Linked DNA regions of Homo sapiens. The protein of the gene in region 4 interacts with the protein of the main gene of each other region in a pairwise test. Each region holds a gene or a part of one and is shown on either strand. Other genes may lie near its edges. The genes, in order: LETM1, SLAIN1, DGLUCY and PSMA3.

Evidence for each region.
Region 1: the proteins of PSMA3 (region 4) and LETM1 interact in binary tests that used the Homo sapiens proteins (3 or more experiments, as listed by UniProt).
Region 2: the proteins of PSMA3 (region 4) and SLAIN1 interact in binary tests that used the Homo sapiens proteins (3 or more experiments, as listed by UniProt).
Region 3: the proteins of PSMA3 (region 4) and DGLUCY interact in binary tests that used the Homo sapiens proteins (3 or more experiments, as listed by UniProt).

What each region holds. Positions count from the first base shown.
Region 1 is NC_000004.12:1,832,142-1,839,177, reverse strand, and holds part of LETM1 (mitochondrial proton/calcium exchanger protein precursor), read left to right. Parts: intron 1-2,605; coding exon 2,606-2,749; intron 2,750-4,195; coding exon 4,196-4,333; intron 4,334-6,230; coding exon 6,231-6,434; intron 6,435-7,036. UniProt on the Homo sapiens protein: Plays an important role in maintenance of mitochondrial morphology and in mediating either calcium or potassium/proton antiport. Mediates proton-dependent calcium efflux from mitochondrion.
Region 2 is NC_000013.11:77,756,655-77,763,690, reverse strand, and holds part of SLAIN1 (SLAIN motif-containing protein 1), read right to left. Parts: intron 2,864-7,036; coding exon 2,581-2,863; intron 547-2,580; coding exon 471-546; 3' UTR 1-470. UniProt on the Homo sapiens protein: Microtubule plus-end tracking protein that might be involved in the regulation of cytoplasmic microtubule dynamics, microtubule organization and microtubule elongation.
Region 3 is NC_000014.9:91,173,045-91,180,080, reverse strand, and holds part of DGLUCY (D-glutamate cyclase, mitochondrial isoform b precursor), read right to left. Parts: intron 6,793-7,036; coding exon 6,642-6,792; intron 4,148-6,641; coding exon 4,025-4,147; intron 1-4,024. UniProt on the Homo sapiens protein: D-glutamate cyclase that converts D-glutamate to 5-oxo-D-proline.
Region 4 is NC_000014.9:58,268,817-58,272,514, forward strand, and holds the end of PSMA3 (proteasome subunit alpha type-3), read left to right. Parts: intron 1-1,601; coding exon 1,602-1,669; intron 1,670-2,117; coding exon 2,118-2,182; intron 2,183-3,034; coding exon 3,035-3,079; 3' UTR 3,080-3,188; downstream 3,189-3,698. UniProt on the Homo sapiens protein: Component of the 20S core proteasome complex involved in the proteolytic degradation of most intracellular proteins. This complex plays numerous essential roles within the cell by associating with different regulatory particles.

The DNA.
Region 1 (7,036 bases), on a different chromosome or scaffold from region 4:
GGTGCACCAGCTCCTGCTGTCCTTCACGGTTCTGAAAAGATTCTCCATTTTCTGTCTTTGTTTCAGGGCTGCAATCTAGATGTTTTCTTTCTATTTTATTCATTCTCTTTTCAGCTGAAGTAATCTTGTTTAATGCAGCCACCAAGGTTTTATTTTCAGTGCCTATGTTTTTAACTCTAGAAGCTCAATTAGTTTATTTTAAATTAATTTTTTAATTTAAAAGAGATGGAATCTCACTTCAGAGGGGTAAACCTTGTGTGATGTAGGTGGTGAGCTAGTTTCTTCAGCACAGATATTGTTTGCTTCTGTGAGAGCCATGGGACACCATGGGCCTCAGAGAGTGCAGCCCTATGTGGGAATCGAGTCCACTCTCTCCCAGGTGCAGCCTCATCTCCTGTCTGCTCCATCCTTTCCTCCCAAGAACACCTCATGGTTTCTAGCTCTTGGGGTTTATATTACGTTTTTGTGGCTCTACTATTTATTTACTTATTTTTATTTTTGAGACAGGTTCTCGCTCCCCCACCCAGGCTGGAGTGCAGTTGCAACCTCATGGCTAACCAAAGCCTCAGCCCTCCCGGGCATAAGGGATCCTCCTACCTCAGCCTCCAGTGTAGCTGGGACCACAGACGCACGCTGTCATGCCAGGCTAATTTTTAAATTTTTCGTAGAGACTGGGTCTCACTATATTGCCAAGGTTGGTCTCAAACTCCTGACCTCAAGCAGTCCTGCTGCCTCGGCCTCCCAAAGTGCTGGGAGGCCTTCCTTTTTAAAGATAATCCTGGCCGGGCGCAGTGGCTCACACCTGTAATCCCAGAACTTTGGGAGGCCGAGGCGGGCCGATCATGAGGTCAAGAGATCGAGACCATCCTGGCCAACACGGTGAAACCCTGTCTCTACTAAAAATACAAAAATTAGCCGGTCGTGGTGGCGGGCGCGTGTAATCCCAACTACTCAGGAGGCTGAGGCAGGAGAATCACTTGAACTCGGGAGGCAGAGGTTGCAGTGAGCCGAGATCGCGCCCACTGCACTGTATCCTGGAGACAGAGTGAGACTCCATCTCAAAAAAATAAAAAGTAAAAAAAAAGATAATCCTGTGCACTGAAATGTGCTCTAAAAGGTTGGGATTTGCAGTTCTGCTTTTGTGTTTACAAACATTTAAGAAGTTATTTTCTTGGTTGGGTGTGGTGGCTCACGCCTGTAATCCAGCACTTTGGGAGGCCAGTGCTGCAGATCACCTGAGGTCAGGAGTTTGAGACCAGCCTGGCCAACATAGTGAAACCCTGTCTCTACCAAAAATATAAAAAAAAATTAGCTAGGCGTGGTGGCGCATGTCTGTAATCCCAGCTACTCTGGAGGCCGAGGCAGGAGAATCGCTTGAACCAGGGAGATGGAGATACAATGACCCAAGATCAGGCGATTGCACTCCAGCCTGGGTGACAGAGCTAGACGCCATCTCAAAAAAAAAAAAAAAAAAAAAACTTGTAAATTTGGATTTTAGTGATGGTTTTGCAATGTATAAATTTACCAAAAATCATCAAATTTATTTAAAATAGTTGAATGTTATGGTATGTAAATTACACCTCAGTAGAACTGCTAAAAAAATTAATGAGGCATATCAAAAAACACATGTGCCAGCTTTAAGGATATGTCCTGCCCAAATATGGCACCGTTTGGGAATAAAGACAGCCGTAAATTGTAAATCAGTCAAAAAATACAGGAGTCCATGGGTCCAGTGCGATAAAAAAACAGAAAAATGAATGTATAGGAAGGCAGGGTTCTCCCCTCCTGCAGATGACAAGATAGGAGAGTTAGGCAGCCACTGTTTTGTGCCCATGAGAGTGGAGGCTGGCTCAATGAGCGCGGGGTCGGGAGAGAGGCTGATGAGGAGGAGGACATTGCTGCTCTCAGGGCGTCTCCCTGGGAACGCTCACTTGTTGCCAGTGGAAACGCAGGAAACGTAGGAACTACATGGAACACCTTGGCCAAGGGACCCCTGTGAGCAGCACCAAGGAGGGGCAGCATCACCCGCGCTGTTTTCCAGCAGTTGTTCAGGCTTCACAGGGATTTCTGATTATTTCAAATTGGATGTTTCTTTAATGGCATCAAGTACTAGTTTGTTTATGTCAATGAAATACTTGGGTTTTTTCCTAATGATTGCTTTGTAGTATAGTCTTAGGAAACACAAGAGAAGCCCTCCTTATAGAGCACCCTCCAAGAGAAGGTGTGGCTCAGCCTATCCTGGTGACTCTCCACCACGCTAGTAATGCCCAGTCCTCAGCCTGCAGCCCTCACTTGCTGGCCCCCGAGCCCAGAGTGCTGGCCGGTGTCCTCGGAGGACTCGATCGCTGGGAGCACCCAGTGGCCCTTGGTGTCAGCACCATACCCTGCTTTTCTGGAGGCTGCTGGTACCTGCTTTGGACCCTGAGAAAGAAGTGGGTTTTGGGAATGGTCTGCTAAGTGGTTCTGGAACTTAGAGTCCTCAGTGGGTCCTGTGAGTCGCTGCCTGAGGTTGTGCCTATAAACCATTATAGGAGAAATGCTCACACCCCTTGCCCTTGTTCCCACATGTGCTCTGCTCCCCTCTGATGGATTCCGCCCCTTCCAGTTTCTCCGGATCTGCGCTGACCTCTTCCGCCTGGTGCCGTTCCTTGTGTTCGTGGTGGTGCCGTTCATGGAGTTTCTGCTGCCTGTTGCTGTGAAGCTCTTCCCCAACATGTTGCCATCCACATTTGAGACTCAGTCACTCAAGGTAAGGGCAGCATCCCAACTGCTTGTTTTAGAATGAGTCTGAAATTCATTGTGATGGCTTCCTTGTTTGTGACTTTTCAGGTGCTAGATATTTTTGAGACTTTATGTATCTTCATATTGTCCTTGTGCTGTGCAATAATTATTTAGTGGATGCTGGGTTTTGGATTTGTTTCTCTTTATTTCGTTATTTATTTATTTATTTATTTATTTTTGAAACAGGGTCTCGCTCTGTCACCCAGGCTGGAGTGCAGCAGTGCGATCTTGTCTCACTGCATACAACCTCTGCCTCCCGGGTTCAAGCGAATCTCCTGCCTCAGCCTCCCAAGTAGCTGGGATTATAGGCATGTGTGCCACCATACACAGGTCTCGCCCTGTCACCCAGGCTGGAGTGCAGTGGTGCGATCACGGCTCACTGCAGCCTCAAGTTCCTGGACTTAAGTGATCCTCTTGTCTTAGCTCCCGAATAGCTGGGACTACAGGCTAAGCCACCACATCTGACTAATTTTTTTTTGTTTTTTATAGACAAGATCTGCTATGTTGCCCAGGCTGGTCTCAAACTCCTGGGCACAAGTAATCCTCTTGCCATGACCTCCCAAAGTGTTATTATGGGTGTGAGCCACTGCTTCCAGCTCAATGTATTTTAAAATACAGGTTTTCTAGACCAGGAACACTCCCCTACCGGTGCTATAGGGGAGTCATGAGGTCCTTCTAGGGCAGGGTCAGCCAGCTGCAGCCCACAGGCCAGATCAGGACCCTGCCTGTTCTCAGCAGAGCCCTGTGGGGACCTGCGATGCCCAGTCATGTGTCTTGTCTGTGAGGCACCAGCAGAGTTAAGCATTTGTTTTAGACCACACAGCCATGAAGGCCAGACGCCTTCCTGTCTAGCCCATTACGGAAAGTGTGCCGATCCTTGCTTTAGGGAATCACACGAGTTTGTTTGTTTTTGTTTGTTTGTTTGTTTGTTTTTGTTTTGTTTTTGTTTTTTTTTTGAGACGGAGTTTCGCTCTGTCACCCAGGCTGGAGAGTGCAGTGGTGCAATCTCAGCTCACTGTAGCCTCCACCTCCTGGGTTCAAGCGATTCTTGTGCCTCAGCCTCCCAAGTAGCTGGGATTACAGGTGTGCATGCCTGGCTAATTTTTGTGTTTTTAGTAGAGACGGGGTTTCACCGTGTTGGCCAGGCTGGTCTCAAACTCCTGACCTCAGGTGATCCACCCACCTTGGCCTCCCAAAGTGCTGGGATTACAGGCATGAGCCACTGTGCCCGGCCCACACGGGTACTTTTTAAAACCATGAAATAAAAGAGTTTGAGAATGTATTGCACTTAGATGAGAGTCAGTGTGTTGTGAAATGTTTCTGGGAGTGGGGGTCGGGCACAGGCGTGAGATGTTTTCCTTGCCCGAACCACAGTCTGAGCAGTTGGAATGCAGTGCCCTCTCTGCCCTTGCAGGAGGAGAGGCTGAAGAAGGAGCTTCGGGTCAAGCTGGAGCTGGCCAAGTTCCTCCAGGACACCATCGAGGAGATGGCCTTGAAGAACAAGGCAGCCAAGGGCAGCGCCACCAAAGACTTCTCTGTGTTTTTCCAGAAGGTGCTGTGATACGTCTGAGTCCCTGTGACCTCACCAGGGAGCCTTCCCTGATTTTCTGTTTCCCTTTCGCTGTGCTCAGCAGAGTGGAGCTCCCCCAGGTGCTGGCTGGCGCTTGAAAGTTTACCCAGGAGGCTCAGTCGGGGGCCAGTGGAGTGTCAGGAGTCTGCCCCCACGAGCTCCCAGTGAGTTAAGCTGTGGTGGCTGCGCCTCGTCAGCCTTCAGAATTATGGGCGTCTGTGTCTCATCACCCTGCAGCTGTCCAGGAGCAGTAGAATCTGACCCATGAGGAGCCTGAGACCCTGATGGTGTGAGGTGTGGGTGGCTTGGCCGGGCTCCTCTGCTGGGCATTGCCCTCTGGCTGGAGTCAGTCAAGAAGATCCCAGGTCCCAGGGGCTGGTCAGAGGCCTGGACTGTGGGAGCAGTGGGGGCTGGAGAGGAGGAGCGGCCCTTGAGGTTTCCTGCGGTCATGTGGTGAGTGAGGTGAGGATGGGGAGACGGCAGCTGCCACGGACCGAGATCCCTGAGGACTAGATGGGGTTCACGAGGCCGGTGTTGTTGGCTTGAGGGACTTGTGCCACTTTGGAGTGAGAAGGATGTGTCTGAAGTGCAGGAAGAGCTTAAACCAGGGCCTAGAAACTCCAGCCATGCGTGTGCGTTGTCTGTGGGGTTTTCCCGCTGCAGCACAGAGGCGAGTGGTTTCCATGGCTGCAAAGCCAGAAATACTTGCTGTCTGGCCCTTGACAGAAAAGACTGCCAGGCTGAGGCCTAACCACGGAGAAGCCTCTCGGGAGGAGGCGACACAGCCATGGGGCTGCTGAGCCCCCCAGGGAGTGGGTGGTGGTTCCAGCAAGATGTTTTAGGGGGAGCCATGCTTTGGGAGCCTCACCCAGGACATCGTGCCTTGCAGAGCAGGAGGGGCCCGTCCCAACCTTTCCTGGGCCGCCCAGCTGCCAAGAAGGATGTGCTTGCAGTCACCTGCACGGGGGTGTGCTGCATAGGGCCGCCCCCAGGAGCACACCTGAAATTGTGTCTCAGAGCTGGCATCCTGCATGTTACGATTTGAGTTGGGCACCAAGTCAGCCTCGTCCTCCCTCATCTGTCACCTCTGCTAGGTACCCTCCTAGCCCAGCTCTTGGCAGAGACTGAGCTGGTGGCTTGTCCCTCAGGTGGTAGGAACTGCAGAGGATCACCCAAAGGGCCCTGAGTGATCCACGCTAAGGGACTCTAGCTCTCCCTAAAGAGCTAGATGGCCACCCCTCCCCCAAGGCTCAGGCAGTCATCCGTGGGAGATGTAGGTGCACACAGGTGCACCTCTTCCTGCCCCAGAGCAGCAGGGTCCCGGCCACTTCTGTGGCAGAGAGAGGATCACAGGACCTGCATGCAGCAGCCTGTGGGCCCGGGCGTCTCCCCCAGCAGACAGCAGCCTCAGCTTTGCTGGTTCAGGCAGGAGAGGTCCACAGGCCAGACGCCACCTTTCCCCAGGCTAGCCCAGCACCGGAGTCAGAAGTCAGTGGTTTGAGGCCAAGCTGGGCAGGTGACTTGAGGTCGGGTATTTGAGACCAGCCTGGCCAACATAGTGAAATCCCATCTCTACTAAAATACAAAAATTAGCTGGGTGTGGTGGCGCAGCCTGTAATCCCAGCTACTCGGGAGGCTAAGGCAGGAGAATCCCTTGAACCCAGGAGGTGGAGGTTGCAGTGAACCGAGATTACACCACTGCATTCCAGCCTGGGTAACAGAGCGAGACCCTGTCTCAAACAAAAAAAAAAAAGAAGAAGTAGTCAGTGGTTTGAGTCCCTGAGGATGAGAGGCAGCACCCTTTGGGAATGTGGTTGGTCGTGGGAGGGAGCCGGGTGGGCGCGTGTCCCGGGGATGACCCTTGTGACCACTTCCGCAGATCCGGGAAACAGGGGAGAGGCCCAGCAATGAGGAAATCATGCGTTTTTCCAAATTATTTGAGGATGAGCTGACCCTGGACAACCTGACACGGCCGCAGCTGGTGGCCCTGTGCAAGCTGCTGGAGCTACAGTCCATCGGCACCAACAACTTCCTGCGCTTCCAGCTTACCATGCGGCTGCGCTCCATAAAGGCAGACGACAAGGTGAGCCTGGCCATACTCCGCGCCACAGCTCTGGTGTTTTACCTTTTCGTTTCCTGATGATAAAAGCAGCATGTCCTCATTGTAGAAACTCTGGAAGATGCTGAACGATCGAAAATAAGCTCACTAGGAGTCTTGCCACTTGCAGATTGCAGATCCTTTGAAGATGGATGTCTTTTCTCTGGCACCTTCTCGGATGATCTCTCTGTTTGGATTTCGTCAGATTTATAATAACTTGCTTAGTTGTGTCTGTCTTTGTGTTCATCCTGCTTATTGATGACAGTGCCTCTGTGCCTCTCTCCTCACATCAGGGTCTTCATCGAGGGTCCATTTGCCCCTTTGCCCTGTCCTGTCCATCGCACGTGCTTGCCTCTGTGCTTCACGCCCTTTTGTGCTTTCAGGGCGCTGCCCTCCTTCTAGGTCTGATTACTCCTTTTTTTTTTTGAGACGGTGTTTCGATCTTGTTGCCCAGGTTGGAGTGCAGTGGCGAGATCTCGACTCACTGCAACCTCTGCCTCCTGGGTTCAAGCGATTCTCCTGCCTCAGCCTCCAGAGTAGCTGGGATTACAGGCGCCCGCCACCATACCCGGCTATTTTTTGTATTT
Region 2 (7,036 bases), on a different chromosome or scaffold from region 4:
ACAAAAAATAAAATTCCTGTAAACTATAAAAAAGTAAATTTCAAAGCATACATTATAGAACCTAGTTGTCAATATGCAATGTATTAAAATACAGAACATGTAATGGAAAGATGTTTAGAACACGTGAGTAAATTGAACAAGTTACTTTAAAAAACTCATATGGCAAAGCATTATTGATACATCTTAATTCTCTCAAAAAGTATTCAGGTACAGAGCAGTTCTACAAAAACTTCCTAGATCTAAGTGTCACAATACTGCAACCATGGGTTTGAGAATGTTGCAGTATCTCAGGCAAATATTTAAGTGCAATAATTAGTCTCTGGTGACTGGTCCATTGAGAAACAATGCAGTAAATATATTAAAACACAAAAGGGAAAGAATATCCCAACATCCACTGCTACCCAGCCAGCTAGGTAACACAACCCTCATTTTTACTTCTTTCCCATTTTTCAAGGGTACATAAAACTGCATTAGTAGCAACCATCTCTCCAATTTCCATCCCTCAGAGTGCTGAGTGAAGACAGAGGCTTTGGAGGCTGAAGAAAACTAAAAAGAGACAAGAAAAACAGAGAGAGAGATTGTTAATAATCCTATGAGTCACATCACTCACTTTGACCTACTCTCCCATCTATGTTCTTCCACTGCAGTAATGAGAAGCCACTGGCACCATCTCAAGTGTACCTTGTGGTTCACACTTACGGGTCTTCACTGCATGCTTATCTCCCAGAGCCCCAGTTCATGGCAAAGTGTCATGCATGTTGTATTTGCACAAGAAAATTTGCAACATAAATAAAGGGGCCAATACCCTTAATGTATAAAACATATTTTAAAATAAGAAAAATATAGGATCCTGGCTAGAAAAATGACCTAAAAACATAAATGGTTACTCTGTTGAATACAAACAGCAAATGAATATGAAGACATTTTCAAAACCTTATTAGTAATTGAAGATTTGCCTATCATATTCGCAAAACATTTAAAAAGAATCTTTGGCTGAGTGCAGTGGCTCACATCTATAATCCCAACACTTTGGGAGGCCGAGGCAGGAGGAAAACTTGAGGCCAGGAATTCAAGACCAGCTTGGGCAACATAGCAAGACCTTGTCTCTACAATTTTTTTTTCAAATTATCTGGGAGTGGTGATATGCACTGTAGTCCTAGCAAGGCAGGAGGATCACTTGAGCCCAGGAGTTTGAGGTTACAACAAGCTACAACCATAACACTGCACTCCAGCCTGGGCAAAAGAGCAAGACCCTGTCTCTAAAAAGAATAGATAAAATAAAAAATTTAAATTTAAAACAATTAAAAAGAATAATACCTAGCATTTGCTTAAGTTTGGGGAAATAGACCATCTCACATTGTCTAGCAGTGACCTTTCCAAGAGTTTAGTTTGGAGACACATAGTCAAGGATAAATGTATGGTCTACAATAACCATATACATCAAATAATGTGATTCTAGTCAGCCATCAGCATGATGACACAGCTCTGCATTTACAAAGCAGAATAAGCCAAAACTTACTGAATAAATAAACATGTACCAAAATTATTTCTATCTGGCAGTAGGATTATGGGTCAGTCTTTACTTTTCTATTTTTCAATAGTTTCTGTTTTTCGAAATTTGTTGTTGATCTGAGCATCTATTACTTCTAAACAAACAAAACAAAATAAAACTATTTATATATCCATAAATGCATAAAGACAGAAAAAAATTGCTTGTTCCACCTCTTTCAAACTTTTTACTATGGTTTTCTCCTTCTCCTTCATATCCTAATTTCTTGAAAGAGCTGTCTGTATTTATTGTCTTTATTTCCTCATCTACCAATCTCTCCTCAAACCACTTTTATGGATTTTTAATATAAGATACTCCATGATATCCAGTTCAAGAAGGGAACATCATGACCAAGAGCTAGACTAAATGTCCTTTGAAGTACTCTGAAACTTTGAAGGGAAAAAAAAAAAATTACTACCTGGACCATACTGAACTTACCAACATAAGCTGATAAAGCCCCAGGTGAATGTCATTAAGATGCTTTTCAAACCATAAATGTGTGGGAGGAGGGTGTGCGTGTGCACATACGCCTGACACATTTTTCCATATTTTGATTAAAAATGACTGATTCAACAAATATTTGAGATCCTACCTGTATTGGGCATAGTTCTTGGCATCGGGGATACACAGCAATGAACCAAAAAGTCAACCTCCCCCCGCCCTACAATTTTTGGATAGAGCTGCCATCTGAGCAAAGACCTGAGGGAGGCACAGAGCAAGCCATGCAAATAACTTGGGAGCAGAAAGCTACAAAAGCTCTGGAGACAGAGCTTATCTGGTAAAAGCAAAAGCAAAGAGCGTCTTAGGAGTGATAGTGATGAGGGAGTAAGGGAAGAAAATGACATCAGAGAGAAGGGGACCTGACCCACACAGGGATATCCATCACTTTTCAAAGGGAGGAGAGCACAAGTCAGGCCATAAAGGGTAGTGTCTTACTAAGGTTAAAGTGAGCCAAAGGAAAAGTCAGCGTGTGTCTGGAGCAGTTTCTAGTTCCAAACTGCAAATGAAGTTACGCAAATACACATTCTTACCTTCTAACAGGTTGTGCAATTTTGCTTCGAGGCAGGTTACTCCCATTTATTGCCAACGAAGGTCTTGGGAGTGCACTGCGACCCATTATCCCAGAAGCTGCAGCTTTGTTCGGTGTGGGGATTCCTGTGTTGGAATACAGCTGTAAGCCGTTTGATAAAGGCATGTTACTGCTGCCTTGAACGGTTGGACTCACATAGGCTGTGGCTTTAAGAGGCTGTCGGATAGACACTGGGAAATGCCCCACGCTGTGGACCCTGTGTTGAAGCTGTCCCGGTGATGGAACTAGAAGAGAAAATGATATTCATGTGAGCAACCTTCTACCACTATCCGACTTAGGAAATGTGTGTTATTTTCAGAAGAGTCCATTATGCCTGAGAGTACAATATACACAGGAGGAGAAAAACAGAATATAGGTTCCAGACAGCACTGAGAAATGGAAAATTCTAATCCTTGACAAAGATCTCCTGGTCTGTCCATCAGCCACATTTTGGAGTGCCTGGCTATATGCAGAAGCCAGTTCTAAGCACAGCCTCCTTTCCTTTACAAATGTGATGATGTCTGAGTTCTCACAAGAGAAAGTCTTCCCCGTTTGCTTGCTAGACATTAGGATTTCTTGATGCTTGCTTTGGTGGTGGTTCCAAGAAAATAAAATGAGGAGATACTTTAATAGTTGTAATTACAGAAAAGAAGACAAGGTGGTATCTGTAGGTACAAACAGTTTATTACAGATATATTCCTTAAATAATATTCATTATGTCATTTATCTATCTGAGTTGCTGGGCATTATTACATTTATAATAGTAGCAAAACCTATAAAATGAAGGGCACTGGGAACTCTCTGGATAAGAACCCTTAAAAATTTCATCAATATACTGATCCAACTTTGTGTATCATTTCACATTAAAAGTAACAAACTGGTAGGCAGAAGTTTTTAAATTTTTTAATCCCTTTCTCCAAGGAAAACAATCAAATTTAATAGAAACTTATGCACAGAATTCTGCTTACATACTAACTACCCAAGCCTTTGATGCCTAGTACTGGCAACATGGTTAAACATGGACATACCCTGTTTTCTAAAACAGTTGAATTTACTTAATCATGAAATATATAAATACTTTTTTGAAATAAATATAAGGGGGAAAAAGACCCAAAAAAGTATCTATGGTTTTATTTATCATCTCTTGAAAATATTTCCTTAAAAATAGTTTTTCCTTAAATTTTTTTTCCTTAAAAAATGTGTTTAATTATACAAGGCAAAATCTATACACAGAAATACTGATACATGTGCTATCAAAAAGATAACACATCATGATCAAGCAGGTTTCATCCCAGGGATATAGAAATGGTTTAACATAGGCCAATCAGTAAATGTGGTACATCACATAAACAGAATTAAAAACCAAAACTATATGATCATCTCAACAGATACAAAAAAGCATTTGATAAAATCCAGCATCCCTTTATGATAAAAACCCTCAACAAAACAGGCATACAAGGGACTTACTTCAAAGTAATAAAAGCGATATATGACAAACCCATAGTCAACATCATATTGAACGAGGAAAAGTTGAAAGCATTCCCCCTGAGAAATGGAACAAAACGTCCTTCACAACAATGTCCACTTTCACCATTTCTAGTCAACATAACACAGGAAGTCCTAGCCAGAGTACTTATAGAAGAGAAAGAAATAAAGGGCATCCAAATTGGAAAAGAGGATGTCAAACTGTCACTGTTTACCAATAATATGATTAGATACCTAGAAAACCCTGAAGATTCATCCAAAAAGCTCCTAGATCTGATAAATGGATTCAGTAAAGTCTCAGGATACAAAATCAATGTACACAAATCAGTAGCACTGCTGTATACCAACAACAACCAAGCTGAAAATTAAATCAGGAACTCAATCCCTTTTACAACATCTATAAAAAATAAAATAAAATACTTAGAAATATACTTAACCAAGGAGGTGAAAAATCTTACAAGGAAAACTACAAAACACTGTTGAAAGAAATCACAAATGACACAAACAAAACACATCCCATGCTCATGAAATGGAAGAATCAATACTGTGAAAATGACCATACTGCCCAAAGCAATCTACAGATTCAATGCAATTCTATCAAAATACCATCATCATTCTTCACAGAACTAGAAAAAACAATCCAAACAATCCTAAAATTCATATGGAACCAAAAAACGGCCCACATAGCCAAAGCAAGACTAAGCAAAAAGAACAAGTCTAGAGGTACCACATTAACTGACTTCAAATTATACTACAAGGCTATAGTTACCAAAACAGCATGGTACTGCTATAAAAATAGGCATATCGACCAATTGAACAGAATAGAGAACCCAGAAATAAACCCTAATACTTACAGCCAACTGATCTTCAATAAAGCATACAAAAACATAAATTGGGGAAAGGACACCCTATTCAGTAAATGGTGCTGGGAAAACTGGCAAGCCACATGTAGAAGAATGAAACTGAATACCTACCTCTCACCTTATACAAAAATCAACTCAAAATGGATCAAAGACTTAAATATAAGACCTGAAGCCATAAAAATTCTAGAAGATAATATTGGAAAAATTATTCTGGACATTGGCTTAGACAAAGAAATCATGACTAAAATCCCAAAAGCAAAGGCAACTCAAACAAAAATAAATAAATGGGACCTAATTAAACTACAAAGCTTCTGCACACCAAAATAAATAATCAGTGAGTAAACAGATAACTCAGAGTAGAAAAAAATATCTGCAAACTATGCATCTGATAAAGGACTAATAGCTAGAATCTACAAGGAACTCAAATAAATCAACAAGAAAAAAAACAACTAATCCCATCAAAAAGTGGGCAAAGAGCATGAATTGACATTTCTCAAAAAAAGATACACAGCCAACAGACAAATGAAAAAATGTTCAACATCACTAATCATTAGGGAAATGCAAATTAAAACCACAATGAGATACCACCTTACCCTGCAAGAATGGCCATAATTAAAAAGTCAAAAACAATAGATTCGGTGTGGATGTGGCAAAAAGGGAACACTTTTACACTGCTGGTGGGAGTGTAAATTAGTAGACCCACTATGGAAAACAGTATGAAGATTCCTTAAAGAACTAAAAGTAGAATTACCATTTGATCCAGCAATCCCACTACTGGGTATCTACCCAAAGGAAAAGATGTCATTATTTGAAAAAAAGACACATTCATACGCATGTTTATAGCAACAGCATTTGCAATGGCTTAGATATAGAACCAACCTAAGTGCCCATCAACCAACGGGTGGATAAAGAACTGTGGTATATATACACCAAGGAATACTACTCACCCATAAAAAGAAACAAATTAATATTTTGCAGCAACTTTGATGGAACCAGAGGCCATTATTCTAAGTGAAATAACTCAGGAGTGGAAAAGTAAATATCGTATGTTCTCTCATGTAAGTGGGAGCTTAGCTATGAGGATGTAAAGGCATAAGAATGAGATAATGGACTCTGGGGACTTGTGGGGAAGTCTGGGAGGGTGGTGAGGGATAAAAACTACATATTGGGTACAGTGTACACTGCTTCGGTAACAGGTGCACCAAAATCTCAGAAATCACCACTAAATAACTTATCCATGTAACCAAAAACCAGCTATACCCCAAAAACTATTGAAATAAGAAAAAAAAAAAGAAATGTTGATACATGTGTATAGTAGTCAAAAAGCTTTATAAAAATAAAGTCTATGTAAGATCCTCCCTTAGGTGTGTTCCCATTTAGCTTTGTGACACAGCAAAGTCCTCTTGGTTGACGAATCATCTCTAAGATTCTTTCTAATCAATTCTGTAATGCCTTAATTTGCTAGTTTTTAACCATGCAAATATTTAATATACTAGTTCAGCAACTGTAACAAGTCTACTGCACTAACACAAGATGTTAATAATAGGGGAAACTAGGAAGATACAGAGGGTGAGGGATTACATGGGAATTCTTTGTACTTCCTGTTCAATTTTTCTATAAACTGAAAACTGCTCCAAAAAAGTGTTAATTTTTTAAAAACCTTCAACACATGAATTTGGCTCAATTTCTTCTGAAGCATAATATACATAAAATACATACATCTTAAGTCTACAGCTCAGTGAATTTTCAAAGTGCATATGTTCATGTAACCACTAATCATATCAAGATAAAAAGCATCACCAGCACCTTACAATGCTCTCTCATGCCTCTTCCTAGTCAAAACTCCCCCAAAGGTAAGTGTTATTCCCACTTTTATCACAACAGACTGTTTTTCCCTATTTTGAGCTTCCTAGGAATAGACTTATTAGTATGTTAACCTTTTAATCTGGCTTCTTTCACTCGACACTTTGTCTGTGAGATTCACCTGTGTTGCTGTATTACTAAGCAGTATTCCATTGTATAAATGTGATTATTCCCCTGATGACAGAAAGCTAGGTTATTTCTAATTTG
Region 3 (7,036 bases), about 33 Mb from region 4:
CTGTCTCTATTAAAAATACAAAAATTAGCCCAGCTTGGTGGTGCGCCTGTAATCCCAGCTACTTGGGAGGCTGAGGTGGGAGAATTGCTTGAACCTGGGAGGCAGAGGCTGCAGTGAGCTGAGAACACGTCACTGCACTCCAGCCTAGGCAACAGAGCAAGACCTTATCTCAAAAAAAAAAAAAAAAAAAAAAAGTGTTTAGCATACTCGTGGTTTAAAAATGTAAAAAAAAAAAATAAATTTTTAAGAAAGTGTTCAGCAAAGTGCTTGTTTCAGAGTAAGCCCTCGATGGTTTGCTTAATTGAACAAGCATATATTTTTTTTTTTTTGGAGACGGAACCTTGCTCTGTCGCCCAGGTTGGAGTGCAGTGGTGCGATCTCGGCTCACTGCAACCTCTGCCTCCCGGGTTCAAGAAATTCTCCTGTCTCAGCCTCCTGAGTAGCTGGGATTATAGGCGTGCACCACTACACCCGGCTAATTTTTGTATTTTTAGTAGAGACAGGGTTTTGCCATGTTGGCTAGGCTGGCTCGAACTCCTGACCTCAGGTGATCCTCCTGTCTCAGCCTCCCAGAGTGCTGGGATTACAGGCGTGAGCCACCGCACCCAGCCTCATCTATATATATTTTTAAAGAGATAAGGCCTTGCTCTGTTGCCCAGGCTGGAGTACAGTGGTGCAACACAGCTCACTGCGGCCTCAAACTCCTGGGCTCAAGCAATCCTCCTGCCTCAGCCTACCACAGTGCTGGGATTACAGGCATGAGCCACAGAGCCTGGCCTGAACCACGTAGTATCTTACTCATTCTTAGTTCCTTATGCCTAGCTCATTAAGTGCTTAATACCATACTATTTACCTCTTCTGCCTTCCTCAGTGTCATTACTATCTTTGAGTATTCATCTCTACTCAGTTGTATGCTCCTGGAGAAGAGCGACCATTGCTCATTCATCTCAGGATCCCACAGAGGGCCTTGCGCATAATAGGTGTTCAACAAATGCAGATGTGAATTGAGTAAATAAATCTTGGATTTCACAGAAACAATAAAGTTTCTTTTTTTTTTGAGACAGAGTCTCGCTCTATCACCCAGGCTGGAGTGCAGTGGTGAGATCTCAGCTCGCTGCAACCTCCGCCTCTGGGGTTCAAGCAATTCTCAGCCTCCCAAGTAGCTGGGATTATAGGTGTGTGCCATCACGCCTGGCTAATTTTTGTATTTTTAGTAGAGACAGGGTTTTACCATGTTGGCCAAGATGGTCTTGAACTCCTGACCTCAAGTGATCCGACCACCTCAGCCTCCCAAAGTGCTGGGATTACAGGCGTAAGCCACCACACTTGGCTTAAAGTTTCATATTTAATAGAAAGAGTCAGCCAGCACTTCAAAATAAAAATCTAATAGATACATAACTTTTAGATTTGATGTGTAAGGGGAAAAAGTCTTGAATCTGATGATGAATTTAATTATCGCTTGTCTGTGTTTTGGATGGCACCTAAAACTGGTCACTCCAAAACCAGGTAGATGTCAGAACAGTCAGCTCAGAGCATGACACGGGGTTTTGCCCCCATCAGTTGTGAGGTCTGTTGCACATAATCTATTGCTAATAGAAGTTTAAATATTGAAGTTCAAGGTAGGCATGGTGGCTCACGACTATAATCCCAGCACTTTGGGAGGCTGAGGTGGGAGGATCGCTTGAGCCCAGGAGTTCAAGACCAGCTTGGGCAACATAGTGAGACCCCATCTCCACAAAAATTTAAAAATTAGCTGGACATGATGGTGCATACCTGTAGTCCAGCTACTCCAGAGGCTCAGGTGGGAGGATTGCTTGAGCCTAGGAGGTCAAGGCTACAGTGAGCTGTGATCGTGCCACTGCACTCAGCCTGGGTGACAGAGCGAGACCTTGTCTCAAAAAAAAAAAAAGGGAATTTGAGAATGATTCAAGATTGTCCCTCTCTGATGTCATTTGTTCTCATCTACGATCAATTGTGCTATCGCTGTCAGAACTAAAGGACTGGAACATGCCATGCTGGGGTGCCCACAGCAGTGAGATCTCCTCTGCAGGGCACCTGCCACGACCGATGGTGGGAAAGCGGTGAGGCCACTGGGCTGGGGGACGTTTACTGCACGTGGGTGGGTGTGTCTACACACATGCCCACACACACACTCAGACAAGACCATGAGCGCCCAGAGGACTCCATCCTGTCCCATGGAGCACTGTACTCCTGAGGCCTGGGTGCATGCCTGGCACATAGCAGGTTCTCAACACATGCACTTAAATAAATGAACAAATGGAATCCTGTGGATCTTGGCAGCCACGCCTCATCACCACATTAGGGATGATCTTTCCCTCGCATGAGGCCATTCTGATAGCTGAACTCTCACGAATGCTTTCAAAATAAATTAAAGTAACACTACAGTATGTGCTTACAGCGCAAGTGTGGCTGGCCTGGCCAGAATTTTCCAGTGTCCATGACCATGGTCTGCAATAGCTGTTATTTTTCATGTTTCTGTCACCTTCCTATCTTACTGAGAGCTAGCGAGGGCGCCCTCGTGTGTCTCTTCATTGTAATATCACCTAGGCCTTGGAAAAAATGTACTGCTGCTGGCCTTGTTTATAATCACCTTGCAAATACCACAGGAAATGACTTGTTTAGTTATATTTCTTGGCTTCACCTTTGTTTTCAAGGCCCCATCAATCTCCAAAATGTCTCAAAAAGCCAAGCTAAAGGTTAGTCCTCCTGCTAGAATGGGCTGGGATGCTTCAGCAGATAAAAATATATATTTAATCAAAACGGCTGAAGCAATGGCTCATGCTGTTATCCCTATGACTCAGGAGGCTGGGGCAGGAGAATCACTTGAGCCCAGAACTTTGAGACCAGCCTGGACATTGTAACAAGACCCCATCTCTACAAAAAATTTCTAAAAATTGGTTTGGTATGGCGGCGTATGCCTGTAGTCCCAGCTACCTGGGAAGCTGAGATGGGAGGATCACTTGACCCCAGAGGTTTGAGGCTGCAGTGAGCTATGATGATGCCACTGAACTCAAGCCTTGGCAATAGAGTGAGACTCTGTGAAAGAAAGAAAGAAAGAGAAAGAAAGAAAGACAAGACAAGAAGGAAGGGAGAGAGAGAGAAAGAAGAAAGAAGAAGGGAAGGAAGGAAGGAAATATATTTAATCAAAACATATTTGAGGCTGGACACGGTGGCTCATGCCTGCAATCCAAGCACTTTGGGAGGCTGAGGTGGGAGGATCACTTGAGGCCAGGAGTTCAAGACCAGCGTGGCCAACATGGCAAAACCTCGTCTCTACTAAAAATACAAAAATTAGCCAGGTGTGGTGGCATGCACCTGTAATTCCAGCTACTTGGGAGGCTGAGGCACACCTCCCTCGCTGGAGCCCAGGAGGCGGAGCTTGCAGTGAGCCGAGATCGTGCCACTGCACTCCAGCCTGGGCGACAGAGTGAGACTGTGTCTCAACAAAACCAAAAAACCAACGACAAAAAAATTGAGTTGTAAGACAAAGTGCTCTGGTAAGGAGATCCAGCCCTGGGATTAAAAGAAGGAAACCAGGCCAGGCGCGATGACTCACGCCTGTAATCCCAGCACTGTGGGAGGCAAAGGTGGGCAGACCACGAGGTCAGGAGATTGAGACCATCCTGGCCAACATGGTGAAACCCCGTCTCTACTAAAAATACAAAAATTAGCTGGGCATGGTGGCACATGCCTGTAATCCCAGCTACTCAGGAGGCTGAGACTGAAAAATCGCTTGAACCAGGGAGCTGGAGGTTGCAGTGAACCGAGATTGCACCACAGCACTCTAGCCTGGCAACAGAGTGAGACCCTGTCTCAAAAAAAAATAAATAAATAAAAGAAGGAAACCAGAGAGAGATTCACTGTAGCTGTAGGCCTCTGTTTTGTGTTTTGTTTCATGGCTTTATTTTTAAATCATTGTACTACGAGAATATGCTTTCAAGAACTAGACCCCACTGGGCTCCATCCTAGGGCAGATCGATTGTCCCATTATCCCCCAACGTACCACAGCTGCTGACAGCTCCGAGACTGGTCAGCGGAGAAGGCCAGAACACTGGAACCTCCCCTGGGGGACACACCATGGCATCCCCGTAGGCAGGTTTGGAAAGCTCTTTGATTCCCAACAGTTCTGCAGATGGAAAAGGAAAATGTAATTTCCTCAGCAGGGAGCATCCAATTAGAACTGGTTGAGTAGTTTATGGTTCTTTCTCTAAAACAGAAACTCAAATTGCAGGATTATTGTAAATGGTATTTGAGGAAGAGGTGAAGGAGAATAGGGATTAAGGCTTTGACAACTCAGGCTACTCCATAATTTACAGTCCATGTGGCATGGTGGTTTCAGAAAACAGAATCTCAAACTGTGTGGCGTGATTTCTGGAAGGATCCTTGGGTGCATTGAGCCTAGTACTCTCATTGTGCAGATTGCTACCAAAGCCAGCCTTGGGGGGTTGACCTTGGTCCAGGCTGGGTCACATCTCATGCACCTAACCTCAGCTGCTTGACTACCAGCAGCAACCTAATCCCGAAGACAGCAAAGATGGATGTGCTGGGCCCAATCCATCCCCGCTAATGATAAAACTCCTCAGCAGACACCATCCTGGTGGGTGGCCCTGAATCATCCTCATGTGATGAAGCTAGCAAGTACTGACTGCATTTTCACAAAAGGCTAGGTTCTGTCTAATGTTGTCGGTTATGCAGTTGAGCAAGTTTAGGTATACCAAACTTGGACCCTCAACCAAGGCCCAGTCTCAAACTCTCATCAGGCCTTCTAAGAGGCCTGCACAGCTTCTTGATATTGGCTCTTCATCTTGGATCTGTTCACTCACTCTCAGATTGAGTGAATACGCTGGGGATCAATGGATTTCAGCTCAAATTAACATATGGAACAAAGCCATCTCCTACCCAAATATACCAAAGAATAGCAGCCCAGATTAGACGTTGCTTCGAGCTCAAATCTCCGGACAAAGAGCCCTGCTGCAACCCTTGGCTTCCTCCAACCCCAGATTCATTGGAAGTTCATAGGAGCTTTACATTTATCAAAGATCCCCAGTGGGTGAGCGTGTAGAGAAAAAAACTCTACCTAAATGGTGTGTTTCCTCTGCTCTCACACCGCAGTAACAGTCATCCACACAGAAGACTCCTGTGACCAAATTTGTAGGGGTTTCTCCCCACCATCAAGCAGGAGGCACCAGCTGGGTGCCCTCCAATTCCATTCCACCTGGAGATAGCATCAGAACCCACGGGTTGAGGGCTCAGTCCCCAAGGCCACCCCCCTACAGACACCAGTTGCAAGTCTGGGCCTCCAGAACTTCTGACCAACTGGCTTCCAGTTTGATTAACCCTCTTTGGGTTTGATTATACCCAAACTCTTTGAGTTTGATTAATTTCCTGGAGCAGCTCACAGACCTTGAGGAAACATTTACTTATGTATACCAGTTTATCATAAAAAATATTGCAGACCGGGTGCGGTGGCTCATACCTGTAATCCCAGCACTTTGGGAGGCCAAGACGGGCAGACCACTTGAGGCCAGGCGTTCAAGACCAGCCTGGCCAACATGGCAAAACCCCATCTCTACTAAAAATACAAAAATTAGCTGGGCATGGTGTTGGGCACCTGTAATCCCAGCTACTTGGGAGGCTGAGGCAGGAGAATCGCTTGAACCCAGGAGATGGAGGTTGCAGTGAGCTGAGATTGCAACGCTGCACTCCAGCCTGGGCGACAGAGGGAAACTGTGTCTCAAAAATAAATAAATTAATTAATTTAATTAAATTAAATAAAGGATATTGCAAAGGATACAGATAGAGATGCCCAGGGCAAGGTGTGGGGGAAGGGGTGCGGAGCTTCCATGCCCTCCTTAGGCACCACCCTCTAGGAACCTACATGTGTTCAGCTATGTAGAAGCTCACTGAAGCCTATCCTCTTGGGGTTTTACGGAGGCTTCATTACATGAGCATGATTGATTAAACCATCAGCCGTGGGTAATCAGCTTGACCTTTAGCCCCTCTTTCCTCCCTGGAGGTTGCGGGGAGGGGTGGAGCTGAAAGTCCCAACCCTCTAATCCTACCTTAGTCTTTCTGGTGACCAGCCCCACCCTGAACCTATCAGACAAAATACAGCATTTTGGAGGTTCCAAGAATTTTAGGAGTTATGAGCCAGGAATTGTGGACAAAACCCAATATATATATTCATTATATATATATATATTTTTTCCTATGTATGTATTATTAAGCCTCGGTAAAAACCCAAAAGGATGTGATATATATAAACTTACATCACAGTGAGACTGGCTATTCTGCCAAGGGTGGCACCTTTAAACCTGAGGGGCATCTGTAAGCCCAGCCCTGATACAGCTGCCAGAGCCTTTGAGCCTTGTTCAGGGCCTTTGCCCCTGGAGACCCCTGGTAAAAACAAAGACAAGCCATGGGAGCTTAGGAACGTGGCAAACTCCTGTCTGCTTCTTAGGCCCAACTCCAAGAGAGGCTGTCAGGATCATGGGCAGGAGCGAGAGACACTGACCTGGGTCGCCGATGTGAACAGGGGGATCATGGGCAGGAGCGAGAGACACTGACCTGGGTTGCCCATGTGAACAGGAAGATCATGGGCAGGAGCGAGAGACACTGACCTGGGTCGCCCATGTGAACAGGTTGCCCCTGCTCACCTCCGAGGGAGCAGCAGGCCCGCACCAGCCCTTCCAGCTTGTCCTTGGGAATGGGCCTCATCGTGACCACCAGAGGGCAGCAGAAGCCAGCATGGGTAACACAAGGCACTGTTGTCTGACCAAAAAAAAAAAAAAATCAAGTGAAAATGTTAAAAAATGGAATTAGCACAGATCCAAGCTCTGAGCACCAAGAGTTCAAGGCAGCTAAATGAAGGAGGAGTAGCTGTTATAGAAATTAGCTTCTATTTTTATGTGACATAGAGAGAGGGAGTTTGCTGTTAATTACTGGTTTAAAATAGGGAATCTTAACTTTTTGTGTGCCACGGACCCCTTTGGTAGACTAGTACAGCTGTGGACCC
Region 4 (3,698 bases):
GTAGAAAATCAAGATCCTCTCATATTATAGCAAGGTTTTAGAAGACCCTCCAAAAAGTAAGGTATGTAACTCAGTGCATAGTATTAGATAAAGCTATACTCTGCTACTGTACTTAATTTGATACTTTTTTTTTTTTGAGATGGAGTCTCACTCTGTCGTCCAGACTGGAGGGCAGTGGCACGATCTTGGCTCACTGCAACCTCCGCCTCCCGTGTTCAAGCAATTCTCCTGCATCAGCCTCTCAAGTAGCTGGGATTACAGGCGCCCACCACCACACCTGGCTAATTTTTGTATTTTTAGTAGAGACAGGCTTTACCATCTTGGCCAGGCTGGTCTTGAACTCCTGACCTTGTGATCCACCCACCTTGGCCTCCCAAAGTGCTGGGATTACAGATGTGAACCACCGCACCTGGCCTCTTGATACTTTTTATGTTACTTTAATATGTTGCATGACAGTGCCTCCTTCTTTGCTGTAATTTGTAAGGTACTACAATGTGAAGGCCAGGTTATGTGGCATATATGCCATTATAAAATGGACAAGGAGCTTAAAAAGACTACTGCCAAGAAGCTATAGGTTGAAGAGACCACTAATAATTGCAAGCACATAAATTAGTTTTTTTTTTTTTATTTTTTTGAAACAGAGTCTCACTCTGTTGCCCAGGCTGGAGTGCAGTGTCGTGATCTCAGCTCACTGCAGCCCCTACCTCCTGGGTTCAAGCAAGTCTCCTGCCTCAGTTTCCCGAGTAGTTGGGACTACAGGCCTATGGCCACCTCACCTGGCTAATTTTTGTATTTTTAGTAGAGACGTGGGTTCACCATGTTGGCCAGGATGGTCTCGAACTCCTGACCTCATGATCCACCCGCCTCTGCCTCCCCAAAGTGCTAGGATTACAGGCACGAGCCACCATGTCCAGCCAATTAGTTGGTTTTAAATATATTTAAGTTAATGGACAAAATATTCTAAAAGGGCACAGTTAATGACGCCTCTTCCTAGTGAATCCGTGTTCTTTATGAGGTATCTTTTATAGTTGTATCTTTTTTTTTTTCTGAGATGGAGTCTCGCTCTACTGTAGCCCAGGATGGAGTGCAGTAGTGTGATCTTGGCTCACTGCAACCCCTGCCTCCCGGGTTCAAGGAATTCTCCTGCCTTAGCCTCCTGAGTAGCTGAGATTACAGGCGCCCACCACCACACCTGGCTGATTTTTGTTTCTTAGTAGAGACAGGGTTTCACCATGTTGGCCAGGCTAGTCTCGAACTGACCTCAAGTGATCCATCCGCCTTGGTCTCCCAAAGTGTTGGGATTACAGGTGTGAGCCACTGTGCCCAGCCAAGTTATATCTCTAAAGCAATGTGCAAAAATAAACTGAACTTGGGTTGATTAGGTATATTCAACATTTGTCGGGAGAGTAGATGTTTCATTTTATTTCAGTCCCTGTGTAATTTGTCTTCTCTAATGTTAAATACTATGTAGAATGTGTCTGTGTAATTTTATAGATACTTTTATTATGGATGGACATTCTAATTTGTACTGACTTTGGGTCTGTGAACTACTTCAATGTTTGGAGGTTACCAAAATCTTACCTTTCCCTTTTCTATTCTAGAATTTACATAGTACATGACGAAGTTAAGGATAAAGCTTTTGAACTAGAACTCAGCTGGGTTGGTGAATGTAAGTTATTTTTGTACATTTATTTGCCTTAGGAATGATCTGTACCACAGCTAATTTACAACTGAGTGTCCTTTCTAATATAATGAAAGCTAAAGCAAATTTACTAGGTTGTCTAATGAAGGGAAAGTTCTGCTTAATAATTGACTTAAGTTGTGAACACGTTATTTTTTGAAACATCCATTTCATGGTTTTAAGATACTATGCTATAAATTAATGCTCAGGATTTATAAATAGCATAATTTACTTTCATTTCCATAAGAACTTAATATGTAGGCACATATAATCTCATGTAGAAGCAGCACACAAAAATATTCGAGTATTACTCATAGTACAACTTTGCAACCTTAGGTGAGTCAGATATGTGGATTGGGTAGATCCTATGGTATACTGCAAGTTACAATATGGTACTCAATTTAAAATTCATTTACACATGTGGCTTAATTTACAGTAACTAATGGAAGACATGAAATTGTTCCAAAAGATATAAGAGAAGAAGCAGAGAAATATGCTAAGGTAAGCCACAGCACAAAAACTTCTCTTGGCCAGGTACAGTCAGGGAATCACTTAGCCCAGGAGTTTGAGACCAGCCTGAGCAGCACAGCAAGACCCCCATCCCTAATTTAAAAAAAAAAAAATTCTCTAACCAAAATTATGTGTTGAATAATATAAATAGACTGGGGTGGTTTCTATGAAATAACACTGAGAGTTCAGTTGAACTAAAGATAGAAATTTTCTAGGTTATCTCTAGTGGGTAAAGTTGCCTTGGTTCCAAAAAAAAAAAACTTGGGAGGTTTAGACTGCAAAGAGTTTTTTAGGACTTTTAATACTTTAAATATTTGTTCTTTTTTTTTTTTTTTTTTTTGAGACGGAGTCTTGCTCTGTCACCCAGGCTGGAGGGCAGTGGCACCATCTCTGCTCACTGCAACCTCTGCCTCCAGGGTTCAAGCGATCCTCCTGCCTCCGCCTCCCAAGTAGCTGGGATTACAGGAACATGCCACCATACCTGGCTACTTTTGTATTTTTGGCTTCACCAATAATACAGAGACGGGTTTTCACCAGGCTAGTTTCAAACTCTTGAACTCACGTGATCTGCCTACTTTGGCCCCCGTAAAGTGCTGGGATTACAGGCATGAACACTGCACCAGGCCTCTTAAGTATATATTCTATCAAAGATACAGTCATTGCATGTTAGAGCAACATTTGCTTAATTAACTTTGCTTGGGTATCTTATTCTGAAACTGTTCATTCAGTTACAAGTAGAGGAATTTAACCACTTAATTCAGGTTGTTGTAGCTTAACTTGCCCACAGGTGTGGGATATAACAATTTTAAAAATCAATTTTAAACACCTGTTTTCTCTTAACAGGAATCTCTGAAGGAAGAAGATGAATCAGATGATGATAATATGTAACATTTACTCCAGCATCTATTGTATTTTAAATTTCTACTCCAGTCCAATGTAACTATTTAGCCCTGGATTATACATACTGTCCAATTTTCATTAAATTTTTGTCTTATAACTATTGAAGTTTGGTTAATATCTGCTTTACAAAATTGGTGGGGGTAAATGAGGACATTTACTCAGTATTAAAATATAGATTTATGACTACTGAAAAATTCCCTGGTTAAAATGCTGCAGAATTAATTCCAAGACTGTAGATTAATTCAAAGCCCCATCTTCATCACTCAACTAGAATTTACAGATCATATTCTCCTGGGCTTTTGTACAAAAAGCACCTACCAACTTAGTGGACAAATAACTGATACGGTTTCCCACTTTCATATGAAGTAACTGGTGGTCATCAGTCACTGTTAATCTTTAGATGTGATACAGATGACAGATGTTTCAGTTTTGGATAATTTTTCAAAAACTGACCCTTCTCAAAAAAGACCCTTCAATACATGAGTCAAGGATGTTTTTGCTTTTTTCCTTTATTGTGGTGAGGGGCGGATTTAAGGATCAATAAAGTCCCTATTCTGTCACTAAAAAAATTTCTTGATCTCTAAAGATTAAAATAAAAATACCAACA